Linked DNA regions of Homo sapiens: all the other regions are linked to region 3. The links come from fine-mapping of genetic effects on gene expression. A gene starts in region 3. Each other region holds a variant in brackets. All regions are shown on one strand. Distances are from middle to middle. Region 1 overlaps AK9 (adenylate kinase 9). Region 2 overlaps AK9 (adenylate kinase 9). Region 3 holds the start of SMPD2 (sphingomyelin phosphodiesterase 2).

Region 1 (4,092 bases), 210 kb after region 3:
GAGGGAATCCTCCCTAATTCATTTTATGAGGTCAGCATCATCCTGATACCAAAGACTGGCAGAGACACAACCAAAAAAGAGAATTTTAGACCAATATCCTTGATGAACATCGATGCAAAAATCCTCAATAAAATACTGGCAAACCGAATCCAGCAGCACATCAAAAAGTTTATCCACCATGATCAAGTGGGCTTCATCCCTGGGATGCAAGGCTGGTACAATATATGCAAATCAATAAATGTAATCCAACATATAAACAGAACCAAAGACAAAAACCACATGATTATCTCAACAGATGCAGAAAAGGCCTTTGACAAAATTCAACAACCGTTCATGCTAAAAACTCTCAATAAATTAGTTATTGATGGGACATATCTCAAAATAATAAGAGTTATCTATGACAAACCCACAGCGAATATCATACTGAATGGACACAAACTGGAAGCATTCCCTTTGAAAACTGGCACAAGACAGGGATGCCCTCTCTCACCACTCCTATTCAACATAGTGTTGGAAGTTCTGGCCAGGGCAATCAGGCAGGAGAAGGAAATAAAGGGTATTCAATTAGGAAAAGAGGAAGTCAAATTGTCCCTGTTTGCAGATGACATGATTGCATATCTAGAAAACCCCATCGTCTCAGCCCAAAATCTCCTCAAGCTGATAAGCAACTTCAGCAAAGTCTCAGGATACAAAATCAATGTATAAAAATCACAAGCATTCTTATACACCAATAACAGAGAGCCAAATCATGAGTGAACTCCCATTCACAATTGCTTCGAAGAGAATAAAATACCTAGGAATCCAACTTACAAGGGATGTGAAGGACCTCTTCAAGGAGAACTACAAACCACTGCTCAATGAAATAAAAGAGGACACAAACAAATGGAAGAACATTCCATGCTCATGGGTAGGAACAATCAATATCGTGAAAATGGCCATACTGCCCAAGGTAATTTATAGATTCAATGCCATCCCCATCAAGCTACCAATGACTTTCTTCACAGAATTGGAAAAAACTACTTTAAAGTTCATATGGAACCAAAAAAGAGCTGGCATCGCCAAGGCAATCCTAAGCCAAAAGAACAAAGCTGGAGGCATCACGCTACCTGACTTCAAACTATACTACAAGGCTACAGTAACCAAAACAGTGTGGTACTGGTACCAAAACAGAGATATAGACCAATGGAACAGAACAGAGGCCTCAGAAATAATGCCGCAGATCTACAACTATCTGATCTTTGACAAATCTGACAAAAACAAGCAATGGGGAAAGGATTCCCTATTTAATAAATGGTGCTGGGAAAACTGGCTAGCCATATGTAGAAAGCTGAAACTGGATCTCTTCCTTACACCTCATACAAAAATTAATTCAAGATGCATTAAAGACTTAAATGTTAGACCTAAAACCATAAAAAACCTAGAAGAAAACCTAGGCAATACCATTCAGGACAGAGGCATGGGCAAGGACTTCATGTCTAAAACACCAAAAGCAATGGCAACAAAAGCCAAAATTGACAAATGGAATCTAATTAAACTAAAGAGCTTCTGCACAGCAAAAGAAACTACCATCAGAGTGAACAGGCAACCTACAGAATGGGAGAAAATTTTTGCAACCTACTCATCTGACAATGGGCCAATATCCAGAATCTACAAAGAACTCAAATAAATTTACAAGAAAAAAAAACCCCATCAAAAAGTGGGCAAAGGATATGAACAGACACTTCTCAAAAGAAGACATTTCTGCAGCCAACAGACACATGAAAAAATGATCATCATCACTGGCCGTCCAAGAAATGCAAATCAAAACCACAATGAGATACCATCTCACACCAGTTAGAATGGCGATCATTAAAAAGTCAGGAAACAACAGGTGATGGAGAGGATGTGGAGAAATAGGAACACTTTTACACTGTTGGTGGGACTGTAAACTAGTTCAACCATTGTGAAAGTCAGTGTTGTGATTCCTCAGGGATCTAGAACTGGAAATACCATTTGACCCAGCCATCCCATTACTGGGTATATACCGAAAGGATTATAAATCATGCTGCTATAAAGACACATGCAAACGTATGTTTATAGTGGCACTATTCACAATAGCAAAGACTTGGAACCAACCCAAATGTCGAACAACGACAGACTGGATTAAGAAAATGTGGCACACATACACCATGGAATACTACGCAGCCATAAAAAATGATGAGTTCATGTCCTTTGTAGGGACATGGATGAAACTGGAAACCATCATTCTCAGCAAACTATCGCAAGGACAAAAAACCAAACACTGCATGTTCTCACTCATAGGTGGGAATTGAACAATGACAACACATGGACACAGGAATGGGAACATCACACACCGGGGACT[G/A]TTGTGGGGTGGGGGTAGTGGGGAGGGATAGCATTAGGAGATATACCTAATGCTAAGTGATGAGTTAATGGGTGCAGCACACCAACATGGCACATGTATACATATGTAACAAACCTGCACGTTGTGCACATGTACCCTAAAACTTAAAGAATAATAATAATACAATTAAAAGAAAAAAAAAAGAAACTCACTAAAAGCCGCAGAACTACATGGAAACTGAACAACCTGCTTCTGAATGACTACTGGGTACATAACGAAATGAAGGCAGAAATAAAGATGTTCTTTGAAACCAATGAGAACAAAGACACAACATACCAGAATCTCTGGGACATATTCAAAGCAGTGTTTAGAGGGAAATTTATAGCACTAAATGCCCACAAGAGAAAGCAGGAACGATCTAAAATCGACAACCTAACATCACAATGAAAAGAACTAGAGAAGCAAGAGCAAACAAATTCAAAAGCTAGCAGAAGGCAAGAAATAACTAAGATCAGAGCAGAACTGAAGGAGACAGAGACACATAAAACTCTTCAAAAAAATCAATGAATCCAGAAGCTGGTTTTTTGAAAAGATCAACAAAATTGATAGACCACTAACAAGACTAATAAAGAAGAAAAGAGAGAAAAATCAAATAGATGCAATAAAAAATGATAAAGGGGATATCACCACCGATCCCACAGAAATGCAAACTACCATCAGAGAATACTATAAATACTAGAAAATTTAGAAGAAATGGATAAATTCCTGGACATATACACCCTCCCAAGACTAAACCAGGAAGAAGCTGAATTCCTGAATAGATCAATAACAGGCTCTGAAATTGAGGCAATAATTAATAGCCTACCAACCAAAAAAAGTCCAGGACCTGACGGATTCACAGCCAAACTCTACCAGAGGTACAAAGAGGAGCTGGTACCATTCCTTCTGAAATTATTCCAATCAATAGAAAAAGAGGGAATCCTCCCTAACTCATTTTATGAGGCCAGCATCATCCTGATACCAAAGCCTGTCAGAGAAACAACAAAAAAAGAGAATTTTAGACCAAGATCCCTGATGAACATCGATGCAAAAATCCTCAATAAAATACTGGCAAACTGAATCCAACAGCACATCAAAAAGCTTATCCACCACGATCAAGTTGGCTTCATCCCTGGGATGCAAGGCTGGTTCAACATACGCAAATGAATAAATGTAATCCATCATATAAACAGAACCAAAGACAAAAACCACATGATTATCTCAATAGATGCAGAAAAGGCCTTCAAAAAAATTCAACAGCCTTCATGCTGAAAACTCTCAATAAACTAGGTATTGATGGGATGCATCTCAAAATAATAAGAGCTATTTATGACAAACCCACAGCTCAGGAGTTTGAGATCATAATGGAGCTTACTTTTTCACTTAACATTATAACTAAACTTCCCCTACACTTTTTATAAGATCACTGTCAATGTAACATTTTAATGGTTTTATAAGATTATGTACTGTGGATATAGCATAATTTATTTCATATTCTTCTGCTGTTTGACATTTAGGTATGTTACAATACTTTATTAGTTATTTTCAAGCATTTCTTTTTATGAAAGTTTTAAAAATTACTTTCTTCTTTAATAATTACAAAAATAACTTGTACTAACTGCAACCAGTGAAGGAATGCAAAAAAGTACATAGAAACAGTTAACACGACTTCTCCCTGCTCCTCCATGCTGCCCGCACAACACAGTGCGTCT
Region 2 (4,092 bases), 240 kb after region 3:
CCCAGCCACTTGGGAGGCTGAGGCAGGAGAATGGCGTGAACCCGGGAGGCGGAGCTTGCAGTGAGCCGAGATCGGGCCACTGCACTCCAGCCTGGGTGACAGAGCAAGACTCCGTCTCAAAAAAAAAAAAAAAAAATCAATGAATCCAGGAGCTGGTTTTTTGAAAAGATCAACAAAATATATGGACCACTAGCCAGACTAATAAAGAATAAAAGACAGAAGAATCAAATAGATGCAATAAAAAATGATATAGGGGATATCACCACTGATCCCACAGAAATACAAACTACCATCAGAGAATACCATAAACACCTCTCAGCAAATAAACTAGAAAATTTAGAAGAAATGGATAAATACCTGGACACATACACCCTCCCAAGTCTAAACCAGGAAAAATCGAATCCCTGAATAAACCAATAACAAGCTCTGAAATTGAGGCAGTGATTAATAGCCTACCAACCAAAAAAAGTCCAGGACTAGATGGATTCACAGCCGAATTCTACCAGAGGTACAAAAAGGAGCTGGTACCATTCCTTCTGAAACTATTCCAATCAATAGAAAAAGAGGGAATTCTCGCTAACTCATTTTATGAAGCCAGCATCATCCTGATACCAAAACCTGGGAGAGACACAACAAAAAAAGAAAATTTCAGGCCAATATCCCTGATGAACATCAATGCAAAAATCCTCAATAAAATGCTGGCAAACTGAATGCAGCAGCACATCAAAAAGCTTATCCACCACAATCAAGTCAGCTTTATCCCTGGGATGCAAGGCTGGTTCAACATATGCAAATCAATAAATGTAATCCATCACATAAATAGAACCAATGACAAAACCACATGATTATCTCAATAGATGCAGAAAATGCCTTCAACAAAATTCAACACCTCATTCACGCTAAAAACTCTCAATAAACTAGGTATCAATGGAACGTATCTCAAAATAATAAGAGCTATTTATGACAAGCCCACAGCCAATATCATATTGAATGGGCAAAAACTGGAAGCATTTTCTTTGAAAACTGGCACAAAACAAGGATGCCCACTCTCACCACTCCTATTCAACACAGTATTGGAAGTTCTGGCCAGGGCAATCAGGCAAGAGAAAGAAATAAAGGGTATTCAAATAGGGAGAGAGGAAGTCAAATTGTCTCTGTTTGCAGAGGACATGATTGTATATTTAGAAAACCCCATTGTCTCAGCCCAAAATCTCCTTAAGCTGATAAGCAACTTCAGCAAAGTCTCAGGATACAAAATCGATGTGCAAAAATCACAAGCATTCCTGTACACCAATAACAGACAAACAGAGGGCCAAATTATGAGTGAACTCCCATTCACAATTGCTACAAAGAGAATAAAATACCTAGGAATACAACTTACAAGAAATGTGAAGGACTTCTTCAAGGAGAATTACAAACCACTGCTCAAGGAAATAGGAGAGGACACAAACAAATGGAAAAACATTCCATGCTCATGGATAGGAAGAATCATATTGTGAAAATGGCCATACTTCCCAAAGTAATTTATAGATTCAATGCTATCCCCATCAAGCTACCACTGACTTTCTTCATGGAATTGGGAAAAACTACTTTAAACTTCATGTGGAACCAAAAAGGAGCTCTCATAGCCAAGACAATCCTAAGCAATAAGAACAAAGCTGGAGGCATCACGCTACCTGACTTCAAACTATACTACAAGGCTACAGTAACTAAAACAGCATGGTACTGGTACCAAAACAGATACATAGACCAATGGAACAGAACAGAGGCCTCAGAAATAACACCACACATCTACAACCATCTGATCTTTGACAAACCTGACACAAAAAGCAATGGGGAAAAGATTCCCTATTTAAAAAATGGTGTTGGGAAAGCTGGCTAGTCAAATGGAGAAAACTGAAATTGGACCCCTTCCTTATACTTGATACAAAAATTAACTCAAGATGGATGAAAGACTTAAACGTAAGACCCAGGACCATAAAAATCCTAGAAGAAAACCTGCGCAATACCATTAAGGACATAGGCACGGGCAAAGACTTCATGACTAAAATACCAAAAGCAATGGCAACAAAAGCCAAAATTGACAAATGGGATCTAATTAAATTAAAGAGGTTCTGCACAGCAAAAGAAACTACCATCAGAGTGAACAGGCAACCTACAGAATGGGAGAAAATTGTTGCAATCTATCCCTCTGACAAAGGGCTAATATCCAGAATCTACAAAGAACTTAAACAAACTTACAAGAAAAAAAAACAAACAACCCCATCAAAAAGTAGGCAAAGGAGGCCGGGCG[C/T]GGTGGCTCACGCCTGTAATCCCAGCACTTTGGGAGGCCGAGGCGGGCGGATCACGAGGTCAGGAGATTGAGACCATCCCGGCTAAAATGGTGAAACCCCGTCTCTACTAAAAATACAAAAAATTAGCCGGGCGTAGTGGCGGGCGCCTGTAGTCCCAGCTACTTGGGAGGCTGAGGCAGGAGAATGGCGTGAACCCGGGAGGCAGAGCTTGCAGTGAGCCGAGATCCCGCCACTGCACTCCAGCCTGGGCGACAGAGTGAGACTCCGTCTCAAAAAAAAAAAAAAAAAAAAAAAAAAAAAAAAAAAAAAAGTAGGCAAAGGATATGAACAGACACTTCTCAAAAGAAGACATTTATGCAGCCAACAGACATATGGAAAAAATGCTCATCATCACTGGTCATTGGAGAAACGCAAAACCACAATGAGATACCATCTCACACCAGTTAGAATGGCAATCATTAAAAAGTCAGGAAACAACAGATGCTGGAGGGGATGTGGAGAAATAGAGACGCTTTTACACTGTTGGTGGGAGTGTAAATTAGTTCAACCATTGTGGAAGACAGTGTGGCGATTCCTCAAGGATCTAGAACCAGAAATACCATTTGACCCAGTAATCTCATTACTGGGTATATACCCAAAGGATTAGAAATCATTCTACTATAAAGACACATGCACACATATGTTTACTGCAGCACTATTTACTACAGAAAAGACTTAGAGCCAACCTAAATGTCCATCAATAATAGATTGGATAAAGAAAATGTGGCATATATACACCATGGAATACTATGCAGCCATAAAAAATGATGAATTCACATCCTTTGCAGGGACATGGATGAAGCTGGAAACCATCATTCTCAGCAAACTATCACAAGAACAGAAAACCAAACACTGCATGTTCTCACTCATAAGTGGGAGTTGAAAAATGAGAACACATGGACGTAGGGAGGGGAACATCACACACTGGGGCCTTTCGGGGGTGGGGGGCTATGGGAGGGATAACACTAGGAGAAATACCTAACGTAGGTGATGGGTTGATGGGTGCAGCAAACCACCATGGCATATGTATACCTATGTAACAAAACTGCACGTTCTGCACATGTACCCCAGAACTTAAAATATAATAATAAAAAAAGAAAAAGAAAAGGCCAAGTGGAAGCTCATGACATTGCATACTGGGTCCTCCACCCCTGGGCAAGATAACCAAGAGTAAATCATTCTGAATGAAGAGTGATACCAACCACAATTTAAAAGATGTACAATCCTGCTTATTTCTCCAGTCTTGCTTTTGTAGAAGCTAGACAGAGCACAACAGATGAGGGTAGACTTCTGCAAATTTAACAAGCTGGTAGTCCCAGTTGCAACTGCTGTGCAGATGGGATCTTTACTAGATAGACACAGTCTCTTGTATTTTTTACGCAGCTGATGATCTGGCAATGTGTGCATCCTTTTCAATCCCTATCAAGAAAGAGGATCGGAAGCAATTTGTATTCACTTAGAGCAGTGACAGTGAACATCCAGTCTTACCCAAGGACTCTCCTGCTGTTTGAGACAATATAGTATAAAGGGGTCTTGATCCACAATATTGACAATATCAGACCTAGTGAGCAGGAAGTTGCAAGTGTCCCGGATCCCCTTATAAAGACACATGAGCAGTAAGTATAAAGTGAGAGATAAACCTACAAAGTTTGAAGGTCTTATTACTTTGGTAAAGTTTTAAAAGGCCAGTGGTCTGGGACATTCTGTCCAAGGTAAAGGATGAGTTACTGTACCTTGTACCTTCAACCTCTAAAAAAGA
Region 3 (4,092 bases):
GCTGGGCATCACCGTGGCCCATGCCTATAATCCCAGCACTTCGGGAGGTCGAGGAGGATTGCTTGAGCCCAGGAGTTCAAGACCAGCCTAGGCAACACAGTGAGACCCCCATCTCTTCCAAAAAAAGAAAAAAAAAACTAGCTGAATTTTCATATTTGAATATAACTACAGTAGGTAAAAGTTTAAGAAAGGGAAAATTGACATTATTAATACAATAAAGATATTGTTTTCTCGACCTACTGTCTTCTACATCAGGGGTTGGAGAGGAATAATTTTTAGATTTGTAAACAGTTTTTTGTTTTTTTTTTTAAGACAGAGTCTCACTCTTGTTGCCCAGGCTGGAGCACAGTGGCACGATCTCAGCTCACCGAAACCTCCACCTCCCGGGTTCAAGCGATTCTCCAGCCTCAGCTTCCCGAGTAGCTGGGATTACAGGCGCCCGCCACCATGCCTGGATAATTTTTGTATTTTTAGTAGAGATGGGGTTTCACCATGTTGGCCAGGCTGGTCTTGAACTCCCGATTTCGTGATCTGCCCGCCTCAGCCTCCCAAAGTGCTGGGATTATAGGCAAGAGCCACCGCGCTCGGCCTGTAAACAATTCTAAAAAATCAAAAGAATTGTATTTCACGTTATGTGAAAATTATACGCAAGTCAAATTTCGTGTCCATAATATGGTTTTACTGGAATACTGTCATTCATTTCCATCTCTGTGTCTGCTTTTGCAACACAGGAAAAAGCTAAACAGGTGTGACTGAGACCCTATTGCCAAGAAGGCCTAACATATTTACTATCTGGACTTTACAGAAAAAAACTTGTCAACACTTTCTTTACAATGTGGAGTCGGCACAGAAAATATGTGCCTTCAGAAAAAGAGCGAAAAAAAAGAGAAAAAAAATCTCTGAAACTCATTAATACATTAACTTTGTAATTAACTTCATGGCCATTAACTTTGGTAATAAAAGGTTGCTGATCCCGTCTGCCCAAGCAACACAGACCACAATTTCTACTTTTGATGATTCATGTATTATTTTCACAGACTTCTGATCACTTGTTTTCTTTTTATTATTTATTTATTTTGAGACGGGGTCTGGCTCTGTCGCCCAGGCTGGAGGGCAATGGCGCGATCTCAGCTCTCTGCAAACTCCGCCTCCCGGGTTCAAGCGATTCTTGTGCCTCAGCCTCCTGAGTAGCTGGGATTACAGAGACCGCCACCACGCCCGGCTAATTTTTTGTATTTTTAGTAGAAACGGGGTTTCACCATGTTGGCCAGGCTGGTCTAGAACTCCGCCTCTGCCTCCCAAAGTGCTGAGATTATAGGCGTGAGTCACCGCGCCAAGATATCTTCTATTTGGGAACATTTTGTTGTCAAGTATCCAGCTGGGTACTTCGGGAGTTAAAAACATTAATTAAGGCATGGTCCTGGAGTCAAGTGAGCTTCGGCGAGAAGTTTGCCATGGACAGCATTTCTGGAGCAAACCCTGTAAGAAGGGCTGAATTCTACATGCCGACATTTCATACATTTCTCCTGCATTTCAGGTTGTAAGTGTGCTGCAGCATGACTGATCTGGCCAAATTCTTCCAGTTTCCTCAAGTGCTTTTCCTTTAGTATCGTTCTGAGTGTTTACAAAGAAATGATTTTCCAAAGCACTTGTGAAGCATCTAGTTCGATTGGAACGCAGTGACGGCTCTATAAAATTCAAAGAAAAGAATCTCCCCGCATGAATAGTTAACAAAAATCGCTTGGGCCGAGGTGGCGGGGTTGTAAAAATTAGCTAGTTATATAGTAATCATTTTTCCATAAATTTAAATATCTCTAATTAAAGAAAAAATTGACGTAGAACAAAATCTGCGGGTGTGTGTGTGTGTGTCTCGGAGGGGATTACCTTATCTCCCAGCGCGGTTCTGAACCCTTCCTTCGCTCAGTTCTCCCTTTAAAAGTCGCCAAGTGGAACGCCCGCCCCCGGACCCGCACTTGCCCCCCTATACTCTCCTCCCGGTCCTCCAGACGGAGCCCGCCCGGCCAGGACACGCCAGCCCCTTCCTCGGCCGGTGGGGCCTCGACCCCCGCCGCCTCGAGGAGGCGCGGCGCCTGCAGTCCACGCGGCCGAGAGCGGGTAGCGGGGAGGGCCGCCCACGACGGAGGTTTCTCTGTGGTTACCTCAGCGGCGCTCTTCGCAATCTGAAAGTTGGGGCAGCTGAAGAGCCCCACCACCTTCACCTGCAGCGGCCGCTCCGGCAGCGACGGCGAGCCGCACCTAGCGTGCGGGGGCCCGCACGGCTGCGGCCTTGCCATGGCCGCGCCCGGGGACGCCCGGTGACCCCAAACACTGCGCGTCGCTCCGGCAACCGCGCGGCCCCGCCTCCGCCGCTCGCAGGAGGCGGGGCCCAGGGGCGGGTCGAGGGCGGCCCGTGGCGGCTGGGCCTTTCCTCAACTTTGCGCCTGTTGCTGGGCCGCCGGCGCGCGGGCGGCCGCGACCGCCGGGGACGAGCTTGGAGGAAAAGGAACCGGGAGCCGCCCACCCGGGGGCGCTCTCCGGACCCCCAGGGTCCTAGCGCGCGGCCCTTACCGAGCCTGGGCGCCCGGATTTCGGCAGCGGATCGCCTTTCCGGGTTGGCGGCCCGCCTGATTGGGAACAGCCGGCCGGTTGCCGGGGGAACGCGGGAGTCGGGCCCGACCTGAGCCACGCGGGCTTGGTGCCCACCTGTGCGCGCCGCCTGCGAAGAAGGAACGGTCTGGGGAGAAGGCGCCGCCGGCCGCCCCCGTCCCCACCGCGGCCGTCGCTGGAGAGTTCGAGCCGCCTAGCGCCCCTGGAGCTCCCCAACCATGAAGCCCAACTTCTCCCTGCGACTGCGGATCTTCAACCTCAACTGCTGGTGAGTGCGTCTGCGGAGTGCGGTCTGGGGGCCACCTTCCGTTCGCACCCATGCAGCCTTCCTCCCCCTATCCCGCCCCACGATCTCAGGGTGTAGGGAAAACCCGAACCTCCAAAGTCCACATCTGGCCCCAGCGCCGGTGGTCCCAGCAGTCGCCTCCCCTGCCCCGCTCTTCCCTTCCTTAGGGGCATTCCGTACTTGAGCAAGCACCGGGCCGACCGCATGAGGCGCCTGGGAGACTTTCTGAACCAGGAGAGCTTCGACCTGGCTTTGCTGGAGGAGGTGAGATTGTGCAGCACGGTGCGGAACCCAGGCTGGGAGGAGGGACAGACCGTCCCACTGGGGAAAGACCAAGCAGGCATCCTCACCGCTTCCCTCAGGTGTGGAGTGAGCAGGACTTCCAGTACCTGAGACAGAAGCTGTCACCTACCTACCCAGCTGCACACCACTTCCGGAGGTGAGAAGCCCACTGGCCTGAAGCCTGTTGTCATCCCAGGAGGCTCTTGGCCCTGCCAGCCCTTCCCTATCCTGCCTGCACTCTCCAGTCTCCTCCAGCCTCCTCTCCCTCTGGATGTGAGAGAAGGAGAAGGGTGAACCAAGAAGGTCCTATGACTTCAGCCCATTTCAGCTTTGTTTTCTGGCTGCCCTATACTCCTCCAAAGGCTGTCGCCTTGGTTCTAGGGCTAGTCCCAGCAGTAGAAAAAGAAAAAAATAGCTGATCAGAGCTGGAAGACAAGGGAGGGGAAGAAGGCTGGGTGTCTCTCCCTGTTTTTCTGGTTATTAAGCAGGGCTTGGCTTTCAGCGGAATCATTGGCAGTGGCCTCTGTGTCTTCTCCAAACATCCAATCCAGGAGCTTACCCAGCACATCTACACTCTCAATGGCTACCCCTACATGGTAAGGCAGACCTTTGACCTCTTCCACCTCCCTTCCCCACCTCCAGTAATACAAGGTAGAGGAGGCAGCCCTCTGAGAGCTGCAGGGGATGGGCAGAAAGATGGTGGCGGTGCCCTGAGTTTCTATCTCCTCCTGCCTGCAGATCCATCATGGTGACTGGTTCAGTGGGAAGGCTGTGGGGCTGCTGGTGCTCCATCTAAGTGGCATGGTGCTCAACGCCTATGTGACCCATGTGAGTGAAGCTGGCAGTGCCTAGGGCTGGGACATGCAGCCCAGTCCTGGGACAGAGAGATGGTACTTCTCTAGCTCTCATACCTGGGG

Evidence for each region. PIP is the estimated chance that this variant, and not a neighbour inherited with it, causes the effect. A credible set is the group of variants that fine-mapping cannot tell apart.
Region 1: its variant is the best candidate, but not a certain one, in a credible set for the expression of SMPD2 in whole blood (TOPMed, PIP 0.79).
Region 2: its variant is the best candidate, but not a certain one, in a credible set for the expression of SMPD2 in whole blood (TOPMed, PIP 0.57).

What each region holds. Positions count from the first base shown.
Region 1 is chr6:109,648,715-109,652,806 of GRCh38, forward strand. The region is part of intron 8 of AK9 (adenylate kinase 9); the gene reads right to left. Among named protein-coding and RNA genes, the nearest start is that of AK9, 40 kb to the right of the region's middle. The variant G/A (reference allele first, on the strand shown) is at 2,363.
Region 2 is chr6:109,682,309-109,686,400 of GRCh38, forward strand. All of the region lies in intron 1 of AK9 (adenylate kinase 9), which reads right to left. Among named protein-coding and RNA genes, the nearest start is that of AK9, 6.8 kb to the right of the region's middle. The variant C/T (reference allele first, on the strand shown) is at 2,294.
Region 3 is chr6:109,438,297-109,442,388 of GRCh38, forward strand. SMPD2 (sphingomyelin phosphodiesterase 2) reads left to right here and starts at 2,428. Exons shown (of 10, transcript NM_003080.3): 1 at 2,428-2,875; 2 at 3,061-3,157; 3 at 3,256-3,332; 4 at 3,678-3,771; 5 at 3,914-4,003. The coding sequence starts at 2,826. PPIL6 (peptidylprolyl isomerase like 6) reads right to left here and starts at 2,332. Exons shown (of 8, transcript NM_173672.5): 1 at 2,160-2,332. The coding sequence starts at 2,294. RefSeq lists silencers at 1,923-2,742, 2,384-2,589 and enhancers at 3,003-3,072, 3,233-3,312.